4 linked regions of the Homo sapiens genome follow. The protein of the gene in region 3 interacts with the protein of the main gene of each other region in a pairwise test. Each region holds a gene or a part of one and is shown on either strand. Other genes may lie near its edges. The genes, in order: SLC35B4, SERP2, TMEM237 and PNLIPRP1.

The links.
Region 1: the proteins of TMEM237 (region 3) and SLC35B4 interact in binary tests that used the Homo sapiens proteins (3 or more experiments, as listed by UniProt).
Region 2: the proteins of TMEM237 (region 3) and SERP2 interact in binary tests that used the Homo sapiens proteins (3 or more experiments, as listed by UniProt).
Region 4: the proteins of TMEM237 (region 3) and PNLIPRP1 interact in binary tests that used the Homo sapiens proteins (3 or more experiments, as listed by UniProt).

The regions. Positions count from the first base shown.
Region 1 is NC_000007.14:134,313,633-134,322,185, reverse strand, and holds the start of SLC35B4 (nucleotide sugar transporter SLC35B4), read left to right. Parts: upstream 1-5,255; 5' UTR 5,256-5,434; coding exon 5,435-5,511; intron 5,512-8,553. UniProt on the Homo sapiens protein: Antiporter that transports nucleotide sugars across the endoplasmic reticulum (ER) membrane in exchange for another nucleotide sugar.
Region 2 is NC_000013.11:44,368,396-44,377,144, reverse strand, and holds the start of SERP2 (stress-associated endoplasmic reticulum protein 2), read right to left. Parts: upstream 3,322-8,749; 5' UTR 3,120-3,321; coding exon 3,036-3,119; intron 1-3,035. UniProt on the Homo sapiens protein: Interacts with target proteins during their translocation into the lumen of the endoplasmic reticulum. Protects unfolded target proteins against degradation during ER stress. May facilitate glycosylation of target proteins after termination of ER stress.
Region 3 is NC_000002.12:201,626,504-201,634,252, forward strand, and holds part of TMEM237 (transmembrane protein 237), read right to left. Parts: intron 6,929-7,749; coding exon 6,808-6,928; intron 5,706-6,807; coding exon 5,548-5,705; intron 3,350-5,547; coding exon 3,226-3,349; intron 2,919-3,225; coding exon 2,727-2,918; intron 1,647-2,726; coding exon 1,573-1,646; intron 912-1,572; coding exon 818-911; intron 1-817. UniProt on the Homo sapiens protein: Component of the transition zone in primary cilia. Required for ciliogenesis.
Region 4 is NC_000010.11:116,586,816-116,594,457, reverse strand, and holds the start of PNLIPRP1 (inactive pancreatic lipase-related protein 1 precursor), read right to left. Parts: upstream 3,500-7,642; 5' UTR 3,463-3,499; intron 3,446-3,462; exon of another isoform or gene 3,419-3,445; intron 3,329-3,418; coding exon 3,280-3,328; intron 2,688-3,279; coding exon 2,533-2,687; intron 2,043-2,532; coding exon 1,917-2,042; intron 1-1,916. UniProt on the Homo sapiens protein: May function as inhibitor of dietary triglyceride digestion. Lacks detectable lipase activity towards triglycerides, diglycerides, phosphatidylcholine, galactolipids or cholesterol esters (in vitro).

The sequences.
Region 1 (8,553 bases), on a different chromosome or scaffold from region 3:
TGCTATTCCCATAATTTGGGGAGTTCTTTTAATCCTTTATAGTAGTTTATCTTCTAGTTAATACTACTAGTTAATAATTCTTTATATTAAGCTTTCTTTGTTCAAATTACTATACAATTTTTGCCTCCTGACTGGACCTTAATTGATACGCTGATATCCAATAGAAATGTACAAAAGATATGTACAAGATATTTCACAGTAGCACTATTAATAATAGCCAAATTGTCCATCACCAGAGAACAAATAAGTTGTCGTATATTCATACAAGGAAATGTTATGCAGCAGTAAGAATAAATGAGCTACAAATACACAAAGAAATGTAGCTGAACTGACAACATAATGTTGAGAAAAAAAAAAGAAGAAACAAAAGAAATATACTGCATGATTCCATTTATGTAAAGTGCAAAAGCAGACCAAACTTATCTTTGGTGCTAGAAAGTCAGAATAGTGCTTGCCCTTGGAGGGGGTTAGTGATTGGAATGGGGCACAGGAGCTGCTGGAATGCTGGTACTCATTTATTTCCTAACCTGAGTATTGGTTATACACCACTGTTCATGCAAATTCACTGAGCAGTACATTTTTGATGTTTACATTGTTAAAATTAGTCAAGCTGAAAAATATCATGTATTCATGAGGTGTGAATTATTTGACTACTTCAAGCTGATTCATTCAGTCATTGAATAGAAGGTATATGCACATATTATGTACCAGTCACCATGTAAGATGCTGAGGATCTAGAGATAAATTAGTTATTTGTGGATTCTGTTCATCAAAGGCTTAGTCTAGAGGGGGAGACCAACATGAAAACAGATAACTACAGTGCAACATGATTAATGGATTAGTGGGGGTATGGAGGAGTGCTGGAGGTATAGAGAAGGGAGCCATGAATGGTTCATTGAAAAGCAGCCAGGAGCAGTAGCTCATCCCTGTAATCCCTGCAATCCCTGCATTTTGGGAGGCTGAGGCAGGTGGATCACCTGAGGTCAGGAGTTCGAAACCAGCCTGGCCAACATGGTGAAACCCCGTATCTACTAAAAATACAGAATATATATATATTCTGTATATATATATATATATATATATATATATATATATATATATATATGCCAGGTGTGGTGGTGAGCACCTGTAATCCCAGCTACTCAGGAGGCCAAGGCAGGAGAATCGCTTGAACTCGGGAGGCAGAGGTTGCAGTGAGCCGAGATCGTGCCATTGCACTCCAGCCTGGGCAACAAGGGCAAAACTCCCCCTCCAAAAAAAAAAAAAAAAAGGAAAGAAAAGCTACACACAGAAAAGTGACATCTTAGCACAGCACCTTCCTCCTGCACAATATAGAGGTATCCACTGACTCTACTGTCCTCTCTGGCCACCGTAAAAAGATGAACAGGAGTTGGCTAAAGAGAAAAGGATATTCCAAGCAGACAGAACAGCGTATGCACAGATAAGAATTTTGAAAGTTACTGTAAACTCAGGGAAGAGAGTGAGTTTATGTGGGTGGAGCCCAGGTAACCCTAGGGAGAGTGACACAAGGTAAAACCAAAGAGGTAAACTAAGGCTTGATTGTGATGTTTATATGCCTTCTACTAAGCGTGGCTTTTACACAAGGAATCAAGAACATTGTATATAGCTAGACTTCAAAGACGTCCCTCCCACACAGACACAACTGATGATTTTGTTAGTTTTCTCCCACAGTGAATCAGGCTTGGTCCTATGGAATCAATAGAATGTGGTACAAGTGGCACTGTGTGACTTCAGAAGCCACGACGGCTTCTGACTTAATATCTTGGAATGCTTGTTCCAGGGGAAACAAGTTACCATTTAAGAATTCCAACTATCCTGAATCCACCATGTTGTGAGCAAGCACAGCCTAAGAGACACCATGTCAAGAGACTTGCTCCTGCCATCTCGGGGATCAACCCTTTCAAGCCTTCAGGGAACTCCAACCCCAGCCTACATCTGACTGCAACTGCATGAGAACCCCAAGAGGACAGAGCAGCTGTGTGCTGGGCACAGTCAGCACACAGAACCTGAGTGAGAAATACAGTGTGTGGGTTTTTTTATTTGTTTGTTTTGCTTTGAATCACTACAGTTTGGGGTGGTTTGTTATGTCGTACTACACAATTAGAAAAGACATCTTAGAATAGCAATGGGACATGAAGATTTTGGGTTTGTTTTTGGAATCAGCCTGGAGGCAGCAGGGAGGATGGGTTAAAGAACACAGAGGCTGAAGGCACCAAGATGTTAGGAGGCCTTTACGGGAGAAGAAGTGGATGTCAATGGGAATGGACAAGAAAGGCTGGAATCTAGAGATACTTGTGAGGTGGAACCGATGGGATATAAAGAGCAAATAAATGTGCAGTGGAAAAAAGAGGAAGACCGAAAACTTTCAGGTTTTTCCCAAAGAGAAGAAGTAGAGTACAATGTTCTTAATAGAAATAAAGGCCTATTAGGGAGGGTAGGTAATGAAATGTGTATGCCCTAATGGTGAGGGGTTTACAGGGAAACATTAGTGAACATTCCAAAGACACTGGAAATTTTGATTAAGGACACAAGGGAGATGGGGGCTGTACATAGACACACACGCAGGATCACTATTCCATATGGCAGTGGTGGAAGTTCCAGAGGTGAAATCGCCAAGAGAACATGTGCAGGGCAATGAGAGGAGGGAATAAATGATGGAACTCTGAAAGGAGAACCCAGTGGTCAGAGGAGGAGAGCCCATTAAGGAAACTGGAAAGCGTAAGTCAGAGAAGTCAAAAGAGAAACAGGAGACTCATGTCTTATAAACAGAGGGACAAGAGAATGTCAAGAAATATTGGGTTTTCATTGTAAAAAGCCACTGCCAGATCAAGTAAGGTGAGACTGTGTTATATGGTTTTCACAATTAAGAAGTCATCACGGCTCTCAACAGGACTGCTTTTAATACCCTGGCATTGATCAGAGTAGTTTAAGAAGCTGATTGGAGATTTAACAAGTAGAGACTACGAATGTAGATTACTCTTTAAAGAGAGTTGATGGTAAAATGAGGGAGGAAGAAAGATAAGTTAGTTTCTTTGAGCATGATTTTGGTCTGAGAACAGGTTTGCTAGCAAGAGTTCTCTGAGCAAATGAGAGGGGAGGATAGAGAGGTCTTCAGAGTTAATGATTTTACAGGCTTCTGCTCTCCAAGTGCAGTCAACAGGTCAGTAGCACCAGCATCACCTGGGAGCTACTTAGAAATGCAGAATCTCAGGCCATGCTGCAGGCCTAGTGAATCAGAATCTGCATTTTAACAAGATCCCCAAGTGATTAACATGCACATTAAATTAATACTCACTGCAGTAGGTGAAGACAGAAATGTGGAGGAAGGAAGAAAGATACAGAACTCTTGCAAATATTACAGTACTCAGGCCATTTTTTTCTTGTGCAATCACTTAGACATGCTTGGGTTTTTATCTGAGATGTAATGAGAAATGTTTAGAACATCCTTTAAGGGCTTCCAAATTAGTGGCATATATGGAAAATGAAGGTCTGTGTGAAGAGAAATCACCTCTAATGAAATCCAGATGAAAATCCAGACCAGCTTCCTGTTGGCAGGATTATTGATAGTGGAGGTGGAGATATTATCATTGCTTCAGCCTCACTCCCAGATAGTCCACTTTACTTGGTCTGAGGTAGAACTGGTACTATTATATACCTGTATATATACCAGTTATATATATATATATATGTGTGTGTGTATATATGTGTATATGAATATAACTGGTATATATACGTGTATATATGTATATATAATTCATTGTTTAATGTGCCAGCACTGTGCAAACTCAAGACGGGTGCTCATTAAATACTGAATTTCACAGGTAGTAGGCTTTCTATTTATGTTAGTTCTTCTTCCTACTCACCTTTTTAAGGCAGCAGTTCTCAAATTCTAGAATGCATTAGAATTAGAACGTGGAGTGCTTGTTAAAAATACAAGTTTCTAGAACCCATACACAAGGATTTTGACTTGGTAGGTCTAAAGCGAGACCCAATAATCTGCACTCGATAACGAGTACTTCAGATGATTCCAATGTGATCTCCCAGTCACGGACTGGGAAAAAAGCATTCCAAACTATTTTGTAGATCTCGAGAAAGACTTCAGAATGTTCGTGTCTCACAGGAAATAGCAAAAACAATATAGCATTCCAAAATCCTACCTAGCTTTGTACCGTGTACTTTGCTATTGCTGTTGGATTCAATTACAACGGAAATATTTGATGTGGTAAAATACTGAGCAGTGATGCTAACCTTTTATAGTAGACACTGGGAAGCAGAAAGGAAGTGTAAACACGTTTCCCTTAAAAACTAGTCTTGCTGGGTGGATAAAGTGTGCATACCTATTTTACAAATAAAGAATAGTGCCGCACTAGCTTATGTACGTAATATGTGCTTAACAAACATTTGTTCATTGAGTAAGTAAGAGTCAAGTCGAATGGCTCAGATTGTAAGTGCTATGAGAATTCCACTGTAAGAAGAGGGAAGTATGCCTTCTTTTCACCATTAAAGATCTGATTGCTGATATTGGCATTTTTGCCAGTAGAAGAGCCTGGACGTTGGCAGTTTTCAAAGCCCCCAGGTGATTTGACTGCGCAGCTAAGTTTGAGAACCACGGAGGTAAAGGAAGGGAGTACCTTAAAGAGCTAGGATTAGGGATAATATCAATAGATCACCTTTAAGGCTGCACCTCAGCCTAATTAAATCAGAATCGCTGGGGGTGGGACTTGGCTATCAGTCATCTTTAAAGCTCTCCAAGTGATTCCAATGTACAGACGTGGTTGAGAGCCATTGCTTTACTTGAATTCTCAGTGGTTCTTAATCCTGGCAGCATAATAGAGTCACCAAAGATACATATATATATATCAGTTCAGGAAGCAGAGTTGTTTCAGATGCTAGAACACCTCCAACGAGCAGTCACAGCTCTGTAGTTCTAGTGCCGCCGCTGCCAGCAAGTTTGTTGTGACCCTGGCGGCCGAGTTACTTTCAGCGCTCTGGGCGGTCTCGCAAGAAACACTGACGCTTTGGGACTTCATTTCCCAGCAAGACCCGCGGCCGCCTATCGCGCGAGTCATGCCGGGCACCTCGTCCCCCTGTCCTCTCTGGCGGAGCTGCCTGGCGGAAGCGGGAACGTCGCATCCTGAGGTAAAGGTGCACGGCATCCTGGGACATGTAGTCTGGCCGGGGCTCGGACGCCCCCTCGGATGAATGGGACCGAAGCTGACTGCGAACTACAGCTTCTTGGCAGCGTCGGTGTTGGCCGCGGGAGAAGGGGAGACCGCGGCGGCCCCCAGTGAGAGCGGCTTTCCAGGACGGTGCGATGTGCTGCGCAGCGAAGAGGCAGGAGGCCGGCTTCCTGGGGTAGCGGTACAGGCGGGCGCTTACTCTGTGCGCTTGCTTCCCCAACCCTGCACCGGCCATGCGCCCGGCCTTGGCGGTGGGCCTGGTGTTCGCAGGCTGCTGCAGTAACGTGATCTTCCTAGAGCTCCTGGCCCGGTGAGTGACCCGCTCGGGCCGCACCCGGTCTCCCGGGGCGGGGCGGAGGAAGCCAGAGGAGAGGTCCCCCCGGGACGCGCCCACGCCCTGTCCCCACCCCGCCGCCCACGGAGCCCGGGGCAGGACGGCCTGAGCCCCCCAGCAATCCGTCCTGTCTGGGCAGCCTGGGACCCCGCTGAGTCCGCTGCTTCCCAAAACTGCGCACCGGCGGCAGTCCCGCCTAACAGTTTCAAAGCATTCCTGCGAGGGGAAGACTCAGGGTGTTGCTGTCGTCACCCCTTTTCCACACTCGGGGGGTATTGAAGTCTGAAGAGTTTTTCACATGACCAGTCCAAGGTCGGCAGAGAGCTAGTGTCAGAACCAAGGTTCCTTCACCAAACCACTCTCTCTTCCTTCCCATCCAACTCTAGCTCTTTTTTCGATCCTGTTAAATGGCACAGGCTGGACTTGAGCAAAGGTTTTTGACTTGTAAAGCAGTCTGACTTTGTACATACTGCAAAGAAAGTTTTATTTTTATTACGGCATCCTGCAAAGCATTTGCTTTATTGGCCTTGGAAATGGTTATGAGTACTTTGCCCAAACATACATAAATGATGCGGTAGAACAGATTTTTATGTAGAAGATCAGTCCACGTGACCCGAGAGTGCTCTTTGAGGTGGCTTGCAAAAAGACAAAAAAAAAAGCAAGTAGAAGATTGGTCCAAGTGACCTGAGAGGGCTCTTTGAGGTCACTTTGAATGTGCAAAGTTCAGTGGATAGAAGCTATAACAGAAGAGACAACAGGTGGTGTGGAAAAGCCTCCAGGACTAAAAAGCTGGGTTGTGAATTTCACTCTTGGCTCCGTCGTCCACTGGCTGTGTAGCCCTTCAAGTCACTTAGCCTCTCTTGGGCTCCTTTTCCTGGCAGTAAAACAATACCTATAGTGTTCTCTAGCTCGTGTTTCTGAATCTATACATTACAAGTTGAGTATCCTTCATTTGAAATGCTTGGGAACGGGTGTTATTTGGTGTTTTTTGTTTTTTGTTTTTTTTTTGGATTTGGGAGTATTTGCATATACATAATGAGATATTTTACGGATGGTACCCAAATCTAAACACAAACTCATTTGTGTTTCTTATACACCTTATACACATAACCTTAGCTTGAAGGTAATTGTATACAATATTTTTAATAATTTGTACATGAATTAAAGTTTGTATACGTTGAACTATCAGAAAGCAAAGGTGTCAGGTGTGGAATTTTCACTTGTGGCATCATATCAGTGCTCAAAAAGTTTCATATTTTTTAGAGCATTTCAGAGTTCAGATTTTCAGATGAGAGATACTCAACTTGTATCTCTGTTGATCATCCGAACAATCCTGTGCAGAAGATTGGTCAAGAATTATAAACTGTTTTACTGAAGTGGAAATGGTCCAAAGAAGTTAGGTGACCCTTCACTACTTGTAAGTGGCAGAGCCAGAAATGGGACCCAAGATATCTAAGCTCCTAGTCCAATACCTTTTTCAACCTCCCTGCCAGTTTTGAACTTGAGCAGCCCATAGATTTTGGTCATCCAGTTCTTCATGTGGTGCCTACTAGAAGTTTATTTTATTTGATATCATTGATTAAATCATCCCAAAGCAACCAGTTTACTTAAGGTAAACTCTGTGTGGGGTTAAGTTTTGCTGTTACGGAGCTTGACATTTTATTGTACAGAAAGTGTTGATAAAGATCTGTTATTTGACTTGGGAATAGGTGATGAGGGATAAAAAATGAAAAAAAAATTGTATCCAACTGTAAATCTGATACACTTTTAAAGGAAGGCCACTTTGGCAACAATTGATTTGAAAATATAAAAAAGTTGGCCAGGCATGGTGGCTCACACCTGTAATCCCAGCACTTTGGGAGTCCGAGGTGGGTGGATCACGAGGTCAGGGGTTCAAGACCAGCCTGGCCAATATGGTAAGACCCCGTCTCTACTAAAGATACAAAAATTAGCTGGGCCTGGTGGTGGACACCTGTAATCCCAGCTACTCAGGAGGCTGAGGCAGGATAATCGTTAGAACCCGGGAGGTGGAGGTTGCAGTGAGCCGAGATAGCACCATTGCACTCCAGCCTGGGCAACAGTGCAAGACTACGTCTCAAAAAATAAAAAAAGAAAATATAAAAAAGTGATACCATCGGGCCAGCCATGGAAATGAAAGTCAGGGAATAATGGTAATATTTGTGTTGAATATGCCATTAAATTAAATCTTGCCAAAGGCTGTATGACATGAGAATATGCAAGCAACTGAATCCCCTCTTTACTAGTTTGTGAGCCCTTGACTGAATTACTTGATCTCCCTGAGTCTGACCCAACTGTAAAAGGGGGTGATGGTGATGATGGTTCTACCAGCTTCACAGAGTTTTGAAGGATGAAGTGAGATGCGCATGTGAAGCCTAAAGCACACTTGTAGGGCTTCCCATTCTGTCCAACAATTTGGTTTCAATACAGATATATTTCTTTAATATATAAAAGAAAGATATATTTCTTTTTTATATATTTATGGTCCTACAAAGTCGTGGACAAATCTAATTTTATAAAATATTTTCATGCATTATAGGAGCTCCTATTTAAAATATTTTGAATAATTTGTAAATAAATCATCACTTATCTTTTTTTTGTAAATCTGCATTTTTTGCATAAAACAATGGGTTTTCATAAAGTGGTGAGGAGGTGCATTTATTAAAATAATCAGTGGTGCACCAGACTGAATAGAGCCTTTTCCTAAGACAAGTCTCCACTTCTTGTGTTACAGATCAATAAAATAAGAGCTAGTTGAACCAGATGGCCTTAAGGTTCTTTCTAGATATGGCCTTGGAATTTGTGACTTTATCTTGGGACATCACAGTGGAAGCCCCATAAATTTTTATAGCCTAGGAACTGTGCTTTTTATATTGGCTGGCTTGGAGCCAGTAGGTGCCCTAATAAGTAGCAAGTATAACACTAAATATAAATGCTAAGTGACTTGCAGGAAGAAGAGGACATTTTTAACCATTTTCCCCAAATTGGAAAACAAACTCA
Region 2 (8,749 bases), on a different chromosome or scaffold from region 3:
GAATCAACATGATTTGGGGACTTTGGCTGATCATAGTACCCATATATCTTTTTTTTGACAGCTTTGGGTGACTACTTTTTAGAAGGGGTGCCCAGCACAATCCCATTGGGACAATTCACATAAACCTTACTCTATGGCTGGAAAAGGTGGGGAAAACTAGTAGTGATTCTGCAAATGACATGGTTTACTCCAAACATGAGTTTGCTACTTCTTGAGGCTCCAAAAATGTCAGGGAATGGCTTTCCCTGTGATTAAGATACCCGTAGGGTAACTCAGAACTCTGAAATTTAAATTCCCCCTTCATTCTGGAGAAGTTACTACTGTATAATCACAAAATGATTATTCCATTTCTCTGTTTCCTTTTTTTTTTTAGACGGAGTCTTGCTCTGTCACCCAGACTGGAGTGCGGTGGCGTGATCTCGGCTGACTGCAACCTCTGCCTCCCGGGTTCAAGCCATTCTCATGCCTCAGCCTCCTGAGTAGCTGGGATTACAGGCGCCCACCACCATGCCTGGCTAATTTTTGTATTTTTAGTAGATACGGGGTTGTGCCATGTTGGCCAGGCTGGTTTCGAACTCCTGACCTCAGGTGATCCATCCGCCTTGGCCTCCGAAAGTGCTGAGATTACAGAAAGTGCTGAGCCACCACGCCCGGCCTTGTTTCTTGGATTAGTCTGCTATCTGGGAGAATAATATTAATTTATCCGTAAGCTATTAGCTAATAATAAAATACTGAAGCATCTGCATACAATTAAAGAAGTTTATTTCTGAACAATTAGTCTGAATTTTCAGTTGGAATCTATACTTGTTCCCATTTAATGAATTTCATCCTGAATAGTGATCTTTTGCAAGTTACTTTTAACAAAGTATAATCATATTTGACTTGTAATTGAGAACATGAGATTTAGGATTTATCAAGTTTCTCTTTGAAAGAAAATTTCATTTTTCTATTGGATAGTAATCTATTTACAATAACATTAACCAAAATCCCCCCAACCAATGCAAAGCAAACATTGATTGTGGCTTGGTCTGGAAACCTTTCATTACAAATTTAGCTGGGCCATTTAAAAACTCTTATAGGTGCAAGGCACTATGAGAGTTTCTTGGGGGCCACCCCATGACATATCAGAGCATATTAAAATGAACTCATACTGTACATTAAATATAATTTAAATGTAGCTCTGAACATTGAGTTGAATGGCAGGTGACTGGTACCTTTTCTAGGTATTTAAACAATGTTTTCCCAATTTTTCCATTTTCTTCTTTTATTTTGGAGCTAATAATTTTTGTTTTGGGTCCCAAACATTTTCTAGTTTTCTTGAAGAACTTGAGGTGGCAGACACTGAGTCTACAGAACCTAATAGATACAACAGCCTTAGAAATTAGTTCTTGTTTTCTTCTTACTTTTGTAATCAGATAAGCTGTCAACTGAGATCTGACAACTGAACTCCGGTTTTTTAGTTCATGAAAAAGAGCCACATGACTAGTTATTTTTCACTGTGTCAGTTAGCAGGTCTGATCCCTTGAGAAGGAAGAATTGATCTCTTAGGGATATAAAACCCTGCATGCCTTAACATCAATTATAAGTTGCTTCTCAATGTCAACCCGGGCAGCCATTTTTTTTTCCTCAGTAAAAATAGGGAAAACATAAATCAATGTGACAAAATGGTTCCAATTTGATGGCATCTTGGCATTTTGCTGCCTAATCACAACTGAGTGATATAATTCCTAAATGAGAGAATTTTAAGGATTACTTAGGTCTTGTGTATAAAGCTCTGAGTAGAGTTGAGTTATGCTTAGACTTGTGTATAAAGCTCTGAGTAGAGTTGAGTTTGGTCCTAGAGTTTCTCTGCCGTAATACTGCTTGGTTTTGCAAGAATTCTGGTGTGATGATTACAGATCTAGCTTTTTGCTTAGTTAATCAAACCAATATAGTTTCTTTGGCTAAAAGGAATTGATTCATCAAATCTGCAAGCTTTCCCAGCCAAACTCCAGGCTTCAGCTGGATTTCCACTTAACTGTACGGGGTAACAGATCCCAGGCGCCTTTGCTCATATACTTGGAGACCAACTTCGCCAAACTACCCATGCGACTCATGCCTCTGAATGTCCAAAGTCACAGGCCTCGCATTTTCTGTTGATGATAATCTGCTTTGCTAAAAGAAACTCCTGAGTGTAAGGCACAGGTTTTACTTAAAAGTCCAGTTGCAAAGCTTGAATTTACAGTTCTAGGGACACCGAATGCCTGACAATAAACTGGTCTCTAAAGTTATACCATGAGAATGAGTCTGAATTCACCAAGTGGAAAGAATAGGAATGCTGCCCTTAGACTTTAGCCTAGGGGCTGAGGGAGGTCTCGCTGGAAGAGAGGTAAAAGAGAAAAAAGAGGCTGGAGGGAATGTGGGTCCAAATCTCACTCCCCATTTTGAGCTCTTTCCACACCTCCAGTGAAACCGTCACAAAGGGGCTGGAAAGAAAACTTGATCCTGGTGCAAGTCTGTTGGGGAGGGAAGACAGGTGGAGTCCGGGAGGAGATGACAAGTGGCCTCCATTTAGCCATTGATTCATTCATTCATTCAACAAACGTTCTAGAACATACTAGGTTCCAGGCTCTGTGTCATGCAACGTTCTAGAACATACTAGGTTCCAGGCTCTGTGTCATGCAGTTGACTTAACTGGCCCCTAAGGATGAGGCTTTCCGTCTTTCTCCGGGACAAGGCCCAGCTGTCTCCCGGGCAGGGGGACAGGGGGTGCGGGTCGGGGAGGAGGGCTCCTCTGCGCCTCCCTGGTAGCCCAGGTAGCCACTCCCAGAGGGGCCACGACCAACCAGGGCCCTCTCCGCCCACGAGGACGCCAAGCAGACCGCGCCGCCCTGAACCCAGCTCTCAGCCCCCACTCTGCAGGACCCCGCAGAAGGGGCGGGCCGGGAGCCGGGAGGCCGGACCCTGCGCCGCTACCCGCCCGGCCCCGCCCCCACCTTCCGCCCCACCCCGCCGGGCTGCAGGGCTCTGCCTGGCCGGCGCCGACCCCGCCTTACCAGGGTTTTGGCTACGTTCCCCCTCTGGGTGATGTTTTTGCTGTGCTTCTCGTTAGCCATCCGGATCCGCTGTTTGGCCACCATGGCTTGTGCGCTCTGAAATGCTCCCACCTGCAAGGATTCCCCCTGCGTTAGCTCCTGCGACAGGGCCGAGCGCGTCCCGCCGAGGCCCCCGCGGCCCACCCGGGCGCTGCAGGTGGCAAGGCGTGGCCCCGAGCCCTGCGCACCCCGCTCCCCGAGCCCCGGCTAGCCGACTCCAGAGAGAGGCCGCAGCCCGGACGGAAGTAATCTCTCATCTCAGGAAACCCTTTCCGACTTCCTCGCCATCCTTCCGGTCCCCGCAGCCACCTACCCCGCGCGGCCACCGAGGCAGGCGCGACCGCACGTCCTCCCGCGCCGAGCGGCCGGAGCGCAGCGCGCAGAGCCGGGGCCCTGCAGTGTCGCGGTCCTGTAGCCGAATGCTGCGGGGCCGAAGGTTCGGGCGACCACGGCGTTTGTGAGCGCGTCGGGGACGGGGACGCGGCCCCTCCTGTGTTTGTCGGCCGGTGACCCACCCCAGCCCCGGGGAAGGGATGAGGGCGGCCGCGCTTCAGGCCGGGCCGCGCGGTCTCCCCTGCACCGCCGCCCCCTGGACGAGGGCTGGACCCAAGGCGGTGGTCAGGGACCTCAGAACACAAGTAGAACCAGTCCAGGCCCGGGCCCGCGCTGCCCGGGTATGGTCCACCAAACGAGCCTTCTCTTTAAGGGTCTCGAGAAGGGCCCCACGCTGGGGGACCCCACTGCAGAACTTTTCGTGAGGGCTGCAAGGAGGGCCGCGTTGTAAAATAAAGAGGAGACACGAAGCGGCATCCCCTGAGGGTTGGGGATCGGGCCGTGAGGATGGAGTTGGGACAGGCCTTTTTGCTTTGGTAGTTGTAGGGGTTGCATTGGAAGATGGGCCAGCGGCAGAGCGGAGCATGCAGGAAAGAGGAAGAGGCCTTGGACCTGCAGCCCAGGTCGGATTTGGTGGTTACTGTCTAAATCTGAAGCTTTGGCCTGCCTTGACTCCCCACCCACCCAGGGCAGCTTGGACCTCTCTCTAGCCACCCTTGTCCCGAGGGGTCTGAGTGTCTCCCAGACTAAACTGGGCATTTTCTGCAGTGGAAGGATAAAAATGGAAGCGTTTACGCGCCTCCCAGACACTGGTATTAGGGCTCAAGAGCTCTACAGATTGCCTGGGGAGGTAGGGGTGGAAGGGGTTCAGTTCCTCACTTGGAGTTAGCTCTTAGAAGCTCAGAAGAGTGGAGGCGAAGAGGGGACATTCAGCCTGGGAGATCTGGGGCAGCGGGAAGTGGGGATACCGGGTCGGGGTGAAGGCAAGCAGCAGCACCCCCAGCATGGGGAAGAAGGCCTGAGGCTGTCTCTGGCCACTGCATCTCTAGGCCTTCTCTTGGAGCGGGAGGTGGCTGGGTTTCCAGGGAATTTTGTGTGAGTAAAATTTTCCCATGTCATTGGAGAGTTAGGAAGAGCTCCTCTTTTGGGGCCTTTTTCCAAGCGGGTCCCCCTCACCCCGCTACAGGCTTCTTGTCACTCAGGCTTCAATAAAGGCCATTCTGGGGGCTGCTTGCTGTAACCTAGAAGACAGAATTGCCTAGGATCATTAGTAGAGTCATTTTTTTTTTTTCCTACTCTACAGGCCAATTAATTTGAAACAAGCTTCTATGGTCTTTTAACTGTTAGCATCACCACTGTTGTAACAGGACCATAAACCCAGTCTGCCCCACTCTAGTCCCATGTTTTTAATAACTGTTGGCTCTTTTTTAGGGGTTTGGGTGGGGGGATTCCTACCTCAGTGATCCCTGCTGAGCCTGGCTGTTGTCTGTGGTCCAGAAGGTTCCTTTACCTGACTCACTCCTCTCAGATCATGTCCAAATACCAGGAGACTGACCCAGGTCCTCACCAGGTGAGTAGAGGTCTGGCTCTGAGCGACATTAAGGAAAAGACACAGACAGAGACTGTTTTCTCTTTGGGTCTTCACATTCAGTGAGTACAGTTCAGAAGTGTTCTTAACTGAGAGAAGCCCCTTTTGGGGAAAATTTTTCTTTACTGTTGACTCCTTTTTCCTGCTATGCTTCACTTTTCCGGCATTTTAAATTAGTTTGTTTTAATTATGAGTAGACTACATCTACACAGTAAATAGTCAAACAGAAATAGGATAGAAAATGAAAAGTAAAGGTCTCTCTTTCCTTGCCACCCTCCCCAAAAAGTTCCCACGGTTCCTGGGTTGCCCTTCCAGTATATACAAGACTATTTGTATATTCCCTTCTAAAAAAAAACGGAATAGTAGTATGCAAACTGTTCTGCCACGTGCTCTTCTAACTTAATATATCAACATTATCATATCACTTATATATGACCTCTTTCTTGTAGTTGTGTTATGTCTCATAGTATGATTATACAGTAATATATTGAACTGATGTAACCATGGATGATTATTTCCAGTTTTTCTTTTTTTGTGGTTGCCAACAATGCTTCAGTGAATATCCCTGTACATAGATCAGTGTGTACTTGTGCAGGTATATCTGCGTGTGATATTGTGAAATATATATTTGATTGTAGTCCCTGTTTCCTGACCTAAAACTCTTAAATTCCTTGGACTCTCCAGAGTGATGAAAATATCTTACCTTTTGTATGCTAATGAGATGGTTGGTGACTTGGAGACCCTAGATAGCTTCAGGATGGGGACTGGTCACCAGAAAGATCAAGGCAGGATTAGAGGGTTGGGACTTTTAGTCCCACCCTGTCCCCCCAGACCTCCACAGAGAGGAGAGGGGCTGAAAGTTAAGTTGATCACCAGTGACCAATGATGTAATCAATCAGACATATGCAATGAAGCCTGTATAAAAGCCCAAAGGATAGGGTTTGTTGAGTTCTGGAGAGCAGAACATCAGGTTCCTAGAGGGTGGCGTGCTCAGAGAGGATATGGAAGCGCCACAGCCCTTCCCACATTTCTTGCCCTGTGCATCTCTTCCATCTCACTGTTCATCTATATGCTTTGTAATATCCTTCCTCATAAATGAGCAAACAGAAGTAAAGTGTTTCACTGAGTTCTGTGATCCACTCTAGCAGATTAGTCCAAACAAGGAGTGGGTTGGGGGAACTCCAGTTTATAGCTGGGCAGGCAGAGGTACAGGAGACAACCTACTACCTGGGATTGGCATCTGAAATGGGGGGCGGTCTCATAGGATCAAACCCTGAGCCCCTGCTATTTCCAGGTACATAGTGCCAGAATTGAATTGAATTAAAGGACACCCAGCCGGTGTCTGTTGCAGAATTGCTTGGTATGAGGGGAAACATCCCCCACACATCTAGTGTTAAAAGTGTGCTGGCTGTGTGAGAGTGGGAGACAACACTTTGGTTTCTCCTATATCACAACACTGGAATTAGATTCCTGGAAGTGAAATTGCTGCAACTTTTTATGTCCTTGGTTGGATGAAGAAACCTCGTGCTGTGACCTCCACTTTACCTGCTCACACCCCTGCTTTTGTCCTCTGCAGTCAGGCCAGCTCCTCTGCAGGTCTCAGTCCTGTTTATTGCCTTGAGGATCACCATCATGGACCAAGCAGTTTCCCAGCATGGATCCTGGCCCTTCTTATACTCAGCCTCCAGACCCTTATGTGGGGAGCTGGGGCTAAAGTCTATAAGCTGTGTTCCTGGAGTTCCAGAGTCACTACTAGACTACGAAGGAGCAAAGCATGGAGTCGTCTTGCTCTTTCGAGGACTTAGGAGGGGAAAATGGAAACTTGATTAAGGAGAACTTCTCCTGGGTTCATCTATGGTGGCAGCATGGAGTTTTGTAATATACCACTAGCATGCAGTGCTCAACCACAACTTTTAAAATTGTTATGGGCAAAGTGCCAGGAAACTGCTAACTGGTTAAAATTTAATTTTGGCTGGTAAAATTTTCAGCCTTTATTTTTATTTTTGAGACAGAGTCTCACTCTGTCGCCCAGGTAGGGGTGCAGTGGCGCAATCTTGGCTCACTGCAACCTCTGCCTCCCGGGTTCAAGTGATCCTCCTGCCTTAGCCTCCTGAGTAGCTGGGATTACAGGCATGCACCACCACGCCTGGCTTTTTATATTTTTAGCAGAGACGGGGTTTCACCATATTGGCCAGGGTGGTCTTGAATTCCTGTCCTCAAGTGATCTGCCCACCTCAGCCTCCCAAAATGCAGGGATTACAGGTGTGAGCCACCATGCCCAGCCAATTTTCAGCCTTTAGAGCAAGAAATCCTAACAAGCCTATGCCCATTAATCATAAATCTGCCCCACTTAGGGCACTGGATGTGTGGCTGTACAGACTGAGTTTTACCCATCTTTATAAATGATGCTACACTACTAAACTGTGATGCATTGGACATCTCTCATTTTTCTGTGGCTGACCAGCATGCAAACATTCTTTATATTTGGGGCACTCCATCACTGTGAGAGTCTTAGGACCTTCTTTCCCACCGTGGAGCATAAGGGGGCCACATACTTGGTCTCCCAACCCCTCACAGCTAGGGTGGCGTGTGATCTGGCCAATGAGATTCTCCTTTTGGGAACTGTGAATCTTGATCAAGTGGTGCAAAGACAGAGACACGTTAAAATTCATCTTGGTGGTCGAGTTTCTAGAGACTGGTAGTACCTAGCAATCATGGTGGAACCAGTGACAGTATCCTTTTTATTCCGTGGTACCTGAAATCCTTACAATAAATTCTTCCGCTTCAATCAGCCAGAGTGAGTTTGTCTTATTTACAACCAAGAACCCTGACTCATGTACATGAAAACAAACAAAAAACCAGAATGTCTTCCTTTGTCATTTCCCCTTCCAGATCTGGAGTGACTGTCATGTCACTTGAAGCTTTCACACATTGTTAGCTAGTGGTCTCTCTTCACCTTATCTCACTAAGGGGAACTGAGTATAGAGGCCTTGACGACAGGTGCTGTGGGTGGCTGGTCTCAATTATGGATGGGAGTGGTTGACAGGCACACCCTGTGTAAATAAAACCAGCAGATAACCGACACTTCAAATGAATACTTTCTTCTTTTTCCAAACCATTTTCAGTACGGCTAGAAAAGAGGAAAATTTGGCAAATCTCAGGTCATCTCCTTTTATACATGTTACTTACATTCTGGTGGAAATGTTCATGAAGTTGTCTCAATAGTGGGCAGAGAAAATCAAGAAAGCTGATAGCAAATGTTATCTGCCACATGCATTGGAGTCAACTCAATGCACTAGATTATGATTTTATGGAATCATGTTATGTTGTAACTGGAAGGAAACCCAGACAGTCATTTATTCATTCGTTTAGTGTTTATTGAGTGTCTGCTATATACCAGACACTATTTTAGACACTGAGAATTCAATGGTTGCTAGAAGAATGTCTGCTTTAGAGAGCTCTAAGTTTTGTGGAGAGGACAAGTAAATGTCGTGAGATTGTCCAAATTTCACAAATGAGTAAAAGCCTCAGAATTGCAAAGGGAATTGTAGCAGACCTGAAAGCAGAATTGTGGCCTCCTGACTTCTCATTTTTCCCAAAAGTAGCTTTACTAGCTAAACTTGAATGGGAGCCAGGGTAACAGGGCACCCTCATGGCTGAGCTTTGGAGCAGCTTATACATGCACGGAAAATAAATCTCCTCTCTCTCTGTCTCTTTCTCTTTCTCCCTCACCCCGCCCCGCCACCCCCCCTCA
Region 3 (7,749 bases):
TACTTTTGGATGCTACGTGCAGCATTTGGGGAAAAAAAAAAAAAAAAAAAAAAAAGACTGCTTCTCTAAGTTTTATGAACTATAATCTCAGCCATCCTGTCAGCTTCATGGCTGGCCGCTGATCTGCAGATGTTGGCTCTCCCTGTTCCGCTCTTTCTAGCATTGCTTGGTTTTCTGAATCTATCCCAGCTACTCACTCCCATCACTGTTCTGGGATATGAAACTCCCTGACAGGGGGTAAGAATGCAGGGCTCCTTCCGTCCATCATATGATGACTTATTTTAGAACTATAACTTGGCTGGGCGCAGTGGCTCATGCCTATAATCCCAACAATATGGGAGGCCAAGGCGGGTGGATCACCTGAGGTCAGAAGTTCAAGACCAGCCTGGCCAACATGGTGAAGCCCATTTCTACAAAAATACAAAAATTAGCCAGGCATGATGGCGGGTGCCTGTAATCCCAGCTACTCAGGAGGCTAAGACTGCAGAATCGCTTGAACCCAGGAGGCGGTGGCTGCAGTGAGCCGAGATAGTGCCATTGCACTCCAGCATGGGTGACACAGCGAGACTCTATCTCGAAAAAAAAAAAAACTATAACTTGAAGATCTAAAACAGATTTTTAAAAGGAAGATATTTCATTAAAAATGCAGGTGGACATAACAATAGTTACCCATTAACCAAAGGAATAAGTATTTTCTTGCCATATATTTGGAAACAAAAACAGAGCCTTCATTATTTGCAGTTGAAAAAGAATGGAAGGATAAGAAAAGTTGCTGTTATTGCCATTAACAATTGCTAATGTCATTGTGAATTCTTACCAGAGGCTACCATTAACAGAAGAAGGTGTGTAAAGGTGGATTCTGTCACTTGTCATTTGCTGACTCAGAGATAGTATAAGAGCAGTAAAGTACACTGAGAAAAAGACAAATGAAATTACTAATAATTTTTAACAACCTGGTTTATTTTGAATTTATAGATTAATATCGAAAATAATCTATACTTTCATGACTGATGATATAAAAGAAATTTATTTGACCAAATAAATATATTTCAATAGGCCAGACATCCTTATATAAATTTTTGAGAACAATAGGTGCAGAAGGATCTTTTGAGACGTTCACTATTTCATCATTAGAACTGACAAGAACCTAGAACATCTTTTTAAAAGTTAAATGACTTGCTCAAGGTCCTAAAACTAGTTTTATTAATATTCTCAAAACTTAGAACAAAATGCATTCCAAATGATCAGAAAGATATAAAATATTGTTTGTTATTAAAAGGCCATACCCGCTGAATCTGTTTAATGTCAAGTAGAAAATACAAAAGTTAAAAAGTAAGTAATATAGTACAATAAATTAAGCTTTTCAAAGTTATTTAGATGAACCTCAATTGAAAAAATAATTCTATCAATATTATGCCTTTTATGTTTCTAATTACAAATTCACTGAACATCTATAGGTAATGTTTATAAGGAGCAGTAATACAACTTTTAAAAAAAATTATATTTATCCTGGTTCAAAATTATGGTATAACTGAAGTATTACACAGTTATCATGTTAAACTGCTTACTCACAGAAAGATGCTAAAGCTGTAGGATCCAGGGCCAAAAAATTTCGGATTGCTACTGATATTTTAGCAAAGTCAATCCTAGAAAATATAAAAGTTTCTTGTCACAGCGCAGTTGTAAACTTAACAAAACTTTACTTTCTTGACTATAGTTTTTTCCTTCTCTAGTCTAATGCTAGCACATATACTATTACTAGGTTTTAAGTAGCTACAGTGTATACTTAACACGCATGACAAAATTATCTAATTTACAAAGGCCACATAAAACATCTAACTAGACTACTTTGGACAACATTCCTTTGGGGTTAAAACATCCTAAAGAAAATTAAACTTGATCTATAAAATTTCATTAGTTTCTACCTCTTTCTATTACCCATATCATTGGGCTCTAACTCGGTGGATTTTTTTTAAAAGGGGCTAAATTGTGTTCCCAAAAAGATATGTTGAACTCCTAACCTGGAGTACTTATGAATGTGACCTTATTTGGAAGCAGGGTCTTTGCAGATGTAATAAAGATAAGATAAGGTCATTAGGATGAACCCTAATCCAGTATGACTGCTGTCCTTATTAGAATAGACACAGATACAGAGATACACAGGGGGAAAGTGCTGCATGACGATAGAGGCAAATATTGGAATGATGCATCTACAGCCAAGGAATGCCAAGGACTGTCAGCAACCACTGAAGTGAGGGGAAGGTCATGAAACAGACTCTCCCTCAGAGCCCTGGAAAAAGGAATCAACCCTGGCCACATCCTGATTGCAGACTGCTCGCCTCCAGACCCATAAGAGAATAAATGTGCTGTTTTCAGCCAGCCAGTGTGTGGTACTTTGTTACAGCAGTGCTAGGAGACAAATACAAATGCTCTGAGTTTCACCTATACCTGATTTAGATGACATTTAGGAACTTCTGAGTTGACTATATTTGGATGAAATTTTGGACTTATGAATTGATGCTGGAATGGGTGAAGTCTTTTGGGAATATTTTGTTTACAATGGTCTCATCCCCTCAAAAAAGAACAGAAGTAGACTGGCCTTAAAACTTTTTGAAGTAACATTGATACTCTATAATTCTATTTTGAAAACTATCATGGTCAGTGACACATTTTGCTCAGCATTTCCTCCTGAAGAAGTTAGACAGATCTGGAGTCATAGGCATTACCTGTCAAAAGCTGAAATTGTACTCAGAGCCAAAAGCAAGTACAGAAGACTCTGGAATGGATACGCTAGGGTCTTGTATTGTTGCAGAAGGTTTGAGAGGTTGGATAGCTGATCTCCTGCTAGAACATATATCACAACAATATTCCACACAGCACAGCCAGCCAAGAATCCATGAGAAAAGAGACCAATCATCCTGAATGGAAAAGGGTTTGATTATTATACATGAATTACTAAAGTAAAAAGCTAAAACATGTTTAAAATCTCTTCATATACAAGAATAAAATTCAACATTTCATGACAAGTAAAAGCAAGCTCTTTCTTTTTAGTTACACTGATAGGTAGATCACTCAATTCCAATAGGATGTTTAAAAAATATACCTACCTACCATTTTAAGTTGTGATTTCATTAATAATACTGAACAACCAAGAGGTTATTTTTTTCTTTAATTACAGAACTCAGTTAACATTTATTTTAAGAAAAGTCCAACAAAAGCAGCCACCTGAAAGCCCGGTGCACTGTAAGTGCCACATCTCTGGTGGTCCAGGAAGGCTTCACGTCCATTGACACATCTATGTTTTCTGTGGTCTTTATCAACTCTGAACGATCAGCAGCCTGGAATCTCCCTAAGAACACATAACGTAATTACTAACAACTAGCGAGAGAGAACCCTGGTAGCCATTTTTTTTTTTAAATTCCATACTCAGGAAGCCGCAAACTAAGACTGAAATATTGCTGTTCTATCTGAAAATTCTCCTTGACTCAGTACCTATTTCAGAAGGATCTTTTCTTGGGGTTCCTTAAACATAATTTTTCATCTTGAAGAAAAATAAGCGATGTCAGTGTATTTTCTTCTCAATCCAAAGTGAAGTAACAATTTCAGAAATCAATTATATTTAATAAAAAAAAATGAACTTTCAACTCAGAATAAAGTCTAGAAATCTTTAACATGACCTAGTCTACAAAATTCTAATTTAGAGACTTTAGAAGTATTAAAGTTTATATGCCTATACTATCAAGGTAAGTCAATATTTGAAAACTACTTTAAATTTCTTAGGAAAAGATGTCAGGATGTGTAGCATGGCTTTCTGGGATGACAGGAAAGAAATAGGCTGCTTCATAAATTTCTCTTTAGAACATTCCTGTGAAGAACATCAGTTCAAAAGTCAGCACTGCAATATTGTATGAGCAGGGCTTTAGCCTTTTTACTGTTGATTCAGAGGCTCCTTCTTGTATATCTAGTAATCCACAAATAGACCTCAGGAAACAGGAAAGGTTCCATTTCAATTATCCTCACCAAACCCAGTTCGCAGGTGTTTTGGAGGATGAAAGACAGGGGTGTGACAATTTTCCCTAAGAAAAGACAACTTCTGGGCAGACAATAGAACCACTGGTACCTTTTATGGCCAGTTACTCTAGCAGGGAAATTTCTATGCTAAGTGAAGCAAGAATAAAAATGAGGATTAAGTGATACTGCTTGAAAAAGAACTGCGGTAATTTAAATGACCACGTGGTAGATGAATAAAACCATGTGACTAGAAGTCATAAAACCACAGTTCAAGTCCCAGTTCCACCCTAACCAAACTGTGAGACACTGGGTAAGTCAGCCTCTCTAGACCACAGGTTTCTTATTGGCCAAGAACTGCAAGATCCCTTAAATGGGATCTTCTGAAGTAGGGTTCTAAAACAAGGTACACAAAATCTAAATTGTAAATTTTAAGGACTAACCTTTATGTTTCAGATGAGTTCTTTAGGCAGCATATGCTTAACATATCCATGGTAGTATATAGTCATGATCATGCTTTGAGTAGGTTTTTCTTAAACACTGTGTTATAGACGGAATGCGTCCCCCAAAAATTCATATGTTGAAGCCCTAACCCCCCAGTGAGTGCGAGGTCACTGGGAGGTAATTAGATTTCGATGAAGTCATGAGGATAAAGCTCCCATGATGAGATTATAATCCTTTTAAGAAGAAGAAGACACACCAGAGCTCTCTCTGCCACATGACGACACAGTGGCAGCTGTCGGCAAGCCAGGAAGGGGCCTTCTCCAGTAACCTAATCTGCTGGAACCTTGTCTTGCACTTCCTAGCTTTAGGAACTATGAGAAATAAATGTCCGTGGTTTAAGCCACTTAGTCGGTGGTATTTTGTTATAGCAGCCTGAGCTAAAATACACTGCAAACCTAGTATACATTATACAATGTCACAACTATCTTGCAAAAGAATATACAGCTATAATGTTGTATTTCTTATTTAATATGGTAGTATCATCATGTATTTTCTCTTATTGTCAATTGTAGAATTTATATTATTATCTGTCCCACCACAACTACTACCAATTGCAGCAAACTGGTAAAGTACAAGAAAGAATAAAGAATCAGGCAGGGGTGGGGAAGATCTTTACATTGCCCATAACCCCATAAATCCAGAAACAACCAGCATTAATATTTGAGCCTATTTCCTTCAAGTCTTTTGTCCTATGCATAGATCAAACTGTGTGTGTGTGTGTGCACATGTGTATATGCTCATTTTTTATCAGAATCTTTCCATAAAATGAAAAATTCTCCCTAAACATTATGTTTAATGGTGAAGAACATTATTATATAGATACACCACAACTTACTGACATTATTCCTCTCCTATTTCACATTTAGGTTGTTTCCAGTTTTTCACTCTCATGAATCATAGCATGATGACCAGTTTTGTGTATAAATTGTTGTACACAGTTTTGCTTAATTCCTTAATTCAGATTTCCAGAAGTATAAAGGATATCCTTGGACAATTTTTAAAGAGTTCATATTCTAAAACAAGGCATCTACTTACGGCTTTTTTCCACAAATACTTTGCCTACAGGCTGGCTAATGCCAGTGGGTGCAGTGAATACAGACTGCTGTTCCACAGTAGTTTGCTCATCAGTGATTATGTCTTCATCTTCTACTCCTAGCTCATTGGCATACTGTAATTCTGCTGGCTGGGTTTTCCTGTAATAAGGACGTATGTATGAAAAATAGATGATTATTGAATTTTTTACAGACTTACATAAGGAACTAGCTATAAATATAATGGAAAGGGCCCTGGACTTGGAGTTAAGAAATGTGGTTTTTACTCAAATAAATCGGTTATTAACTATTATGTGCAGCAAGTTACTTACATTTCTGAGGGCTTCAGTTTTCTCATTTGAAAATTGAAGTGACTGAACTAGATCTGTAAGCTTCTTTCCAAATTTAAAACTGTATGATTCTGTATAGATACTGATAAGGTTTGGCTATGTCCCCACCCAAAATCTCATCTTGAATTGTAATAATCCCCACCTGTCAAGGGACTGTTCTGGTGATAGTGAGTTCTCAGGAGATCTGATCGTTTTGTAAGGGGCTTCCCCCTTCACTCAGCTCTAATTCTTCTCCTTCCTGCTGCCCTGTGAAGAAGGGTGTGTTTGCTTCACCTTCCACCATGATAGTAAGTTTCCTGAGGCACCCCCAAGTCATGCTGAACTGTGAGTCAATTAAACCTCTTTCCTTTATAAATTATCCAGTCTCGGGTATGTCTTTATTAGTAGTGTGAGAACGGACTAACACAGACATTGATCACTATTTGTAGGTTCATTTTCAAATACAAATAATAGTGCTATATATATGACTTCCAGTGTTATTTCTTTAAAGTACACTACTCATTTTATCTTAATGCTAAAACCCAGTTTTACTTATTCCTAAAATAATCATAATTTGAATTCTGTTAACATAAGAAAATAAATCACAATAGCCTATTTCATTATCTTTAATTTTTAAATATCCTTAATGTTTAATTTTGCTACTTATATATTCTATTTGTGTTCTTCTTTTTTAGAGATGGCTCTTAAGTTTTTTTATTTAAGTACAATCTTAATTTTTTTTATTTTCTCAGTGGTTTACTCTTCTGAAATTTATCATTCGATTGGTTTAACTGATTTTTTGTAATAATACTTATCCTAGAGGTACACAAATACAAGTATGTAATAAGACTTAATGAGAAGCTACTGCTTCGGAGCTCCAAACAAAGCATCAGGGTAATCCTGGAGAATAGTTAGAAGAATAAATAAATTCCTACTTTGTCTTCCTCCGAGGTTTTTGAATAACTGCCTCCTCAGCTGGCTCCGCATCAATACCATTTTCATTTCGTAATAAAGATGAACTAGATGACTTCTTTTGGGTGGAGGAAGTCTCCAATTCTGAAAACAAAATAAATTTAACTTTTCAAATAACTAAAACATAAAAAGAAAAGTAATGTACAAGACTTGTATAAGAGAAAAGAACTTCAAGAATTTTAATTGGGCAAAAATGTTTTCACTATCTTACAAATTTTTAATTTTTTAAAAATGTTATACTTCTAAACTCTCAATGTAAAAATTGAAATTGTAATGCCAAACAATATGGAAAAAAATTAAGTAACCCAATACCCAGGCTGTGCTGAAGATTCCCAAGATTATCTCCTGGTTCGCTGACTTTCTAGAAGGGCTCACAGGACTTGGAAATCATCACACTCACAATTATGGTTTACTACAGCAAATGGATATAAAGCAAAATCAGCAAAAGGAAAAAGTACATGGACCAAGTCCAGAGGAAACCAAGTACAAGCTTCCAAGAGTCCTCTATCAGTGGAGTCAAATAGGATGTACTAACATTACTGGAGAGTAATGAGTTGTGACAACACATGTGACACATGTTGTACAAAAGAAGCTCATCAGAGACAGTGCCCAAGGTTAGGGGCTAGTCACATAAGCCTAGCACATACCAAAATTCTGGATGCCCGGAAGGGAAACAGATGTTCAGCAAAAATCACTATGTGTGCACAAATGCACCGTGAGTCACCTTATAATTTAGGGAAAGTTTTCTATCAGTGTAGGGAGCTGTTTATCATCCAAGTTCCCAGATGCCAGCTAACGGCCAATCTTATCAGCAGGCTTTTCCAAGGATAGCAGTCTCAGGTCTGCTATATTAACTCTTTTCTGCACACAGGGTAGGTATTAAGTTTAAATGAGTCAGTGAAGCC
Region 4 (7,642 bases), on a different chromosome or scaffold from region 3:
GGGAAAAACAATTGCATCATGAAAAGAGTCCTGTTTTGAAAAGGAAAAGTCTTAGGTGCAATCTCCGGTGGCCAGTGTCTAAATGACCTTGTGGATTTGACTGTAAGGGGTCCTTTCAGGCTCTTGGCGATGCCCCAGGCTGCTGGAAAGTGAGAGAGAAGTTTCACTATTTTTATAGTCACGATGACACAGTACTTCATGGAGTAGACACATGTAGATATTTGAAAAATAGAACTGTACTGATTTAAAAGAGATTGAAGAATTCTGGAAGGAAAATGTCTTCCTGGATGTCAAAGGAGCTGATATATCTTTAGGAGTTCTGCCAGGCAGTACATATTACCAGCTTGAATTTAAAATGGTACTATAAATTTAAAATGCACTTGGAATCATTCCACATATAGTATACTAATATGTGTGATCACATGCACAGAGATAGTGGGAGTTTTCTCCTCAGGACTTTTCTTTTCTTTTCTTTTTTTCTTTCTTTTTTTTTTTTTTTTTTTGAGACAGCCTCATTCTGTCGCCCAGGCTGGAGTGCAGTGGCGCGATCTCAGCTCACTGCAACCTCTGCCTCCGAATTTAAGCAATTCTCCTGCCTCAGCCTCCTGAGTAGCTAGGACTACAGGCGCCTGCGACCACACCTGGCTAATTTTTGTACTTTTAGTAGAGACAGGGTTTCACCATGTTGGCTACGCTGGTCTTGAACTCCTGACCTCGGGTGATCCACCCGCCTCGGCCTCTCAAAGTGCTGGGATTACAGGCATGAGCCACTGCGCACCTGGCCAGGACTTTCATTTTCAAGCAATCCTGAGGAAACTTTCACAAGCCTGGAGAATTTGGAGTATAAACTGTATCAATAAGATGCTTATTAATGATAGGACAGGAAAGGTGCCAAGAGTGAAATGCCTGTTAAACCAAGGGCAAGTGCAGAATGACTTTAATTTTCTGGGTTTGTAATTTTTCCTTTTGACATTACTGGTTGGTGTTATTAATGTATGTGTGGAAGGCAGGCTCCTGGGGTAGGTAAATTCTTAGGTGACAGAAAAATCGATTGAACTAGTCTCCACATAAATAGAAAGGATGATGGTATATTGTGGTATATTGCACGCACATGTGTGTGTGTTTGTGTGTGTATGCACAAGTTGCACACATGTCCATGTATGTATGTGTGTGTGTGCACATGTGTGTATTCTTCTGTTGCTCTCCTTCTGACCTATATTACATGTAGGTGACACTTTCTATTCTGTCATTGTAGTAACTTAATCTTAGTTTTCTTTTTTTTTTTTTTTTGAGATGGAGTCTCACTCTGTTGCCCAGGCTGGAGTGTAGTGGCACAATATTGGCTCATTGCAACCTTTGCCTCCTGGGTTCAAGCAATTTTCCTGCCTCAGCCTCCCAAGTAGCTGGGACTACAAGAGCCTGCCACCACAACAGGCTGATTTTTGTATCATTAGTAGAGATAGGGTTTCACCATGTTCGCCAGGCTGGTCTCGAACTCCTGACCTCAGGTGATCCATCCACCTTGGCCTCCCAAAGTGCTGGGATCAATTAAGTGGTCACAGCAACACATGTCAGCCTCTCAGGGATGTGGGAAAAATTTGAACAAAGAAACCCCTATAGTCCCTCGCTTATAGGATACAAAGTACCCTCACTACAAATGGAAGCAGAAAACATCAGGCCTTGGTTTAACCAGAAATTAGGTAGTAGGAGTACTTTTCTAACAGCAAATGTGGTTGCTTCAGTGTGCAGATGTAGTGCGGAAACATGGAAAGGCATTTTAATTTTTGTGAAGAGAAGCATTTTAATTGCATAAAGTTACCTAATATGTAAAGATTTCTTGAGTGCATAAAGTGATGCAGAGATGTTAGCAGAAGTGTTGGCCTCAGCTGGCCACAGGGATCAGAGCTGGCTCCTACCTTGCACATGTCTGTCACCCAGCTCTCATCTCCTTTGTCTATGAAGCCATGGATGATGAACCGGGTCTTTCTGTCCATTTGAAAATTTGATGCCTCAATTGTTGATGGATCAGAGAGGAGGAGAATCTGTGACAGACGCAGAAGTGCTTCATGTTTTCGCAGCCCAGCCTCACAGGCCTTTTTCCTTCCTCATCTCCGCCTGCGCCAATGCCTCTACTTTTCAAAGCTTAGCAAAAAGCCACTTCTTCCATGAAGCCCACCCTGATCTCCCTTTTCTTGCCCCATCTCTCCAGGTGAGTAATCACTGCTTCCACTAGGCCTGGATTGTGGTTTGAGGTTTTACCTTCCCTGTGGTTTTTGTTAGACAGTAAGCTGTTTGCCCCAGACCAGAATCACACAGTAGCTAGAGGTTCTGGCAAATGTGAACCATTCATTCATTCAAGCCAACATTACTAAAGACCTGCTCTGTCTAGGTCTAGCTAGGTCTGGGGGGCAGCTTGAGGGATGGGGTGGGGCATGGTGGAGGAAGAGGGCACAGAGATAAGGTATTCATGGTCTGCAGGGTGGGCATAGCCCCGTGCCAGTTACAGTGACATTTAAATGACAGAGGTCTCACTTGAAAGTTGTTTGGGTTTTCATTGGTGTACAGCAGGAAGCGGGTGCCGATCTTCTCAGGGCTCCAGGGGAGAATTTTCAGGGGCCTGATTGCTGTCCCGCCCCAGGGCTCAGTGTCAGAAAAGCACCCGAGGTCCTCATAGCAAACTTCTTTTCCTACAGAGAAAGGTTGAATCTGCTCAAGGATTTGCTCTCAAGGTGTGCTCTGGGGTGTCACTGCTGTTCGGGCCTGGTCACTCTTCTATTCAGGGACAGTCTGAAGACAATGGATGAACCTACTGCAACCCCTCCCACTCTCTTCTTGACCCCAGTGCCCACCTACTACTGGCCGGTAGTAGTATCAGTCCCATTGAATCCCACAGGGACACCACTGGAGCCTTTGTTTAGAACTACCCTCAAAACTGGAAAGTTCTAAGTCCCATTCCTAGCTCTTCTGATACATTTATTTGACCAATGTGATCATGGGCATTGATAAGTCAATATGTTAACTCAGGCAGATGTTTCATGCTTTACCTAGAAATGTCTGGCCTTGGGCACCCCGAGCATGAAGGTAGGCCACTGGGGGGATCCCCAGAAACAGGTCTCCCTTAAACTGCCCAGCCTACTCTCCCAGGCAGAGTGTCAGCCCACATCTTCTCTCTGGTACCCTGGAGCTGCTGGGAGCCCTGCCACAGTTAAAGCTTTCTCTGGCCAGGGCTGAGAGCTTAAGTTTAAGCCCTTCCTACGGGGCAGGAGTGGTGTTTCTTACCTTTGGCTGCTCCCAGCAGGAAAAGTGTGATTGTCCAGAAGATCAGCATCTACAATAAATTTAAACATAATTCAGTCTCACCGGGCATTGCCAGAGCAGTGAGCACCGACGCCCTGGACTTCAGTACTGTTTACCTCACCTGTACGTCACAGCAGGGGGAAAGGAGTTGCAAAGGTGGCTTACCCTGTCTAATGTTCCAGATGTTCCCTCCCACCGGATCGAGTGTCCAGCCCTTTCTAAAAATATATATTCCAGCCTTATCATTTGGACACTACTTCAAGAAAACAGCAGGTGATTATAGCCCATGCTGTGCGCACTTAATACTTTAATCTGCCCAAATACACAAAACAAGATTAATAATAGCTGTCAAGTCTTCCCACAAGTCTGGAAATATGACAGAATGCTTGGTTAAAGCAGGGAGTGAAGTCACCAACCTTGTACCTATGTAACTATGCATGTACTTGTGAGCTGAATGGGCCCTCACTTTTCAGTTTTCTATTTCATCACCAAATAGTTTACAAGTCTCAATAGGGACACAGCAGCAAACCCTAATGATAGAGGATAGTATTTCTCATTTAGAATAGATGAAAATACCTGCAATTAGTTGAAAGTAAAGAGAAATCTCTGATTAAGAAAACTTCTTCTCTCTCTCTCTCTCTCTCTCTCTCTCTCAATCTTCCTCTCTCTCTTTCGAAGACTAGGAATACTGGGCATCTGAGCTTTGGAGAAAAATTCAACAGCCCTCACAGTAGCTTCTGACCACAATCCTCCCATTAACTGCCTATTCCAGTTATATATTGCTATGCAATGAACCAATCCAAAAGACAACACTTTAAAACAATAGCAATGATTGCATTATGCCACTGTAATCTCAATAGTTGGGTTCAGGAGCCCCCAGAGGCCCATGTCATGTCTGTTGAGTTTCCCCAGGTCCTCTGAAGGTTGCACACCTGCAGATAATTCTTGGACCCTGTAAAGCCATCATGATATAACCAGAGACCTCTGCATCTGTGAACAGCCCAGCCAGTTCACACAGCAAGGCAGATAAGCCTTCACAAAGCAAACACCATGAGTGCCTCCCCTTGCCAAGTTAAATATGCCTCGGTGTCAAAGTTCTCAATCTTAAATAACCAAAACACAAGGGTGCAGGCCTAAGGGCCTTCCTCTTAAGAAAATGGAAAGGACTCCTGGAATCATAAAGAATAGCTGCCAACTGTTACGAAGCCTTACCAAGTACAGTCAGAATTCCAAGCACCTTACGTGTATTACCTAATAAGTTTTAAAACAATCCCATAAGCCTCTCTTTATAAATGTGGGAACTGAGGCACAGAGAGATAAGTAAATTGCCTAAAAAGTCACACGACTAACGAGTGATGAGGTAAGATTTGAATTCAGGCTGTACAGAGTTGTTGAATATTCAGTTGTGTTGAGCTAGTAATCAGCAAGCTTCACTGGATGTCAACCATGTAGAACAAGAGGGATACACAGAATGAGTCAAAAGAGAAAATGTGAAAACCCTCTTGGCCCTTGACCTGTTTCCTCCCTACTTCCAGGCATCCCCAGGATGGAGAAACAGGCTAGACTTGGTGATGGACTGGGAAGGTGGTCAGAGTTCTTCATCCCTTCCTCCTGTACACACACCCTTTGCAATGTGATCTTGCAGCTCCTTCCATCAAGAAGTGGAGTTTATTTCTCCACCTCTTGAATCTGAGCTAGACATGGTATGACTTGATTTGGTCATTAAGTGTGGTAACAGCAACATCTTTGAACAACTCAAAGCCAGCTGTCCCCCAAGTATGTAAAGGACCCAGCCAAGATTAGTGGCACTGCCTACTCAACCCACTGTAACCACAGAGGCATGAGTAAATCCAGCCAAGACCAGAAGAACCACCCAGCAAACTCAGATTTTTGAGCATGGATAAATGCTTTAATTCAGTGCTTTAAGCCACTGAATTGGTGATTGTTTGTTATGCAGCAGTAGCTAACCAATACAGGAACCCAAGCCAGGCCTGGAATTCAGAGACAGCAGCACCTGTTGCACTCACTGTTACTATTCTTTAGCACACAGCACCAGGTTCGAGCATACCCTTTCCTAAGACAATGAGGAAACTCCGTGCATCAGTCAATATACACTGTGCTCCAATGCACTGGCTCCTGTTTAAATGCTCTAGGGGATTTAATTAGACTAAGCCTCTAGCAAGGCTGAGGTTCAAGCTGCTTCTCCTTCACAGGCTGTCAGACAATTTATTCATTCCACACCAGATGGAAAGATTTCTGGGTGAGTCTTTCAAACAACAATAACAACTGGAATTTCTTTTTTTCTTTTCTTTTCTTTTTTTTTTTTTTTTTTTTTTTGAGATGGAGTCTTGCTCTGTCACCCAGGCTGGAGTGCAGTGGCGCGATCTCGGCTCACTGCAAGCTCCACCTCCTGGGTTTATGCCATTCTCCTGTCTCAGCCTCCCAGGTAGCTGGGACTACAGGTGCCCGCCACCACGCCCAGCTATTTTTTTGTATTTTTAGTAGAGACGGGGTTTCACCGTGTTAGCCAGGATGGTCTCGATCTCCTGACCTAGTGATCCGCCCGCCTCGGCCTCCTAAAGTGCTGGGATTACAGGCGTGAGCCACTGCGTCTGGCCAACAACTGGAATATTTTGATTGAACTTACATCCAGTTTCAGGGTCACAAGTAAGGATTCATAGGCATACAAATCTGTGGATCTCTTTTTGAAACCATGACTTCATTTCCACCAGACAGCTCTCAGGTCTTCAAGACGTATGACTCATTGAAGGTCACAAAAGTAAAGAATGAAGTCACCAGCCATTATCTGTTATACATACATGTGTAGATGAAGCCCAAATATCTGCTTTCCTTCAGGCAATCAGCTCTGTCCTTGTTTGCTCCTTCAATTTTAATTCTGGGGGAATGATAGAGTTGGGTTCAAGGTGGGTTTTCGGAGTCCCTTAATTTTAGAGAAATGTTTGTTTTGAGAAAGCTGGTTTTTAAATCTCTTCCAGAGCCTAGAATCAGACTGTATTACATTGAACTATGTTTCTAAATATCCCATGAACTGGCAGACTCTCCCTCTGTGTGTTGTAATGGAAGTAGGGTACAAGAACTTGCCTCATCATTAGTCAGCTATTGATTTCTTTTTCTTTTATTAGAGATACCTGTCTGTGGGAAGTGAACTCAGCTTCTGAGTTTCACCTAGAGTTCTCAAAGTCCTTGATGACCGCTGGTAGATCTCACCGAGGCCAGACAAACCCTGGTGCCAGTTGGAGTGCATTAGGTCCAAAAGTCTGCGCTCCTCTGTAGGGGTCCTTGGCATTTCCAGAACAACTCCCAGCCTTCAGAATCTGGGTGCTGTGAAGTTCTGCAAACTTGAATGACGATTAGATAGGGAAATAATCAGAACTTGCTCTCCATACAAGTATCAAAACGGTTGATTTACACCCAAAACTTGGCTGAAGCCACTTTTGGGGGCCTCTGCTTGTCCATGAGGAAGTCCTCATCATCCAGCTGCCATGGACTTCGGAGACCAGGAACTGGGTCTTTTTTTTGCTCACTTCTGTGTCTCCAATGCCTAGCGGAGTGCCTCACATATGGTAGGTGCTCAGCACATGTTTGTGGAAGACATGAATGCTTACTCAAGGACCATCCTAGTCTTGTCTCCTACAATTCTCTTCTCTGAATACTGCCCAGAAGCCATAACAAACTGTCTTCTTAATATTAAAAGAGCTAAGCTTTTAAAAACTGTGTAACTTTTCTGTACTTACCTTTAGTTGTTTCATAATGACCAAGATCCTATTTAAGAAAATGTTTTAGGTCTTTTGACATTTCTTACAAACTTCTGAAATTCTAATTTAAGTCTTTTGATCTCAGAATGACTTTGGGACATACTAGAGGGTCCCTGGAGCTTCTCAAAGGAAGAGACATATTAAACCAATTAGGCTTATTAAATACATTAAATTATATGGGAAACATTGTAAATAAGAAATTATATTTAACCTTCTTTTAGTTATACTTGTATAAATATGTTGTTTCATGTTCCACAAACTAATAAATTCTTAGAAATCTAATGTGTTAGCAGCTGTAATTTTGGTTATTATGTTAAACTGTTATATGCTACAAAACAACCACATTTCCTTGTGAATTGTGTCACTATTATAATGAATTCTCATCTTTTAACGATGGTCATTTTAAGTCCTGTTATTCACGCACAGATCATTAAATAGTTAATTGTTTCCTTTTTTTCTTTTCTTTTTCTTTTTTCTTTCTTTTTTTTTTTTTTTTGAGACTTGCTCTGTCGCCCAGGCTGGAGGGCAGTGGCACGACCTCAGTTCACTGCAGCCTCCGCCTTTCGGGT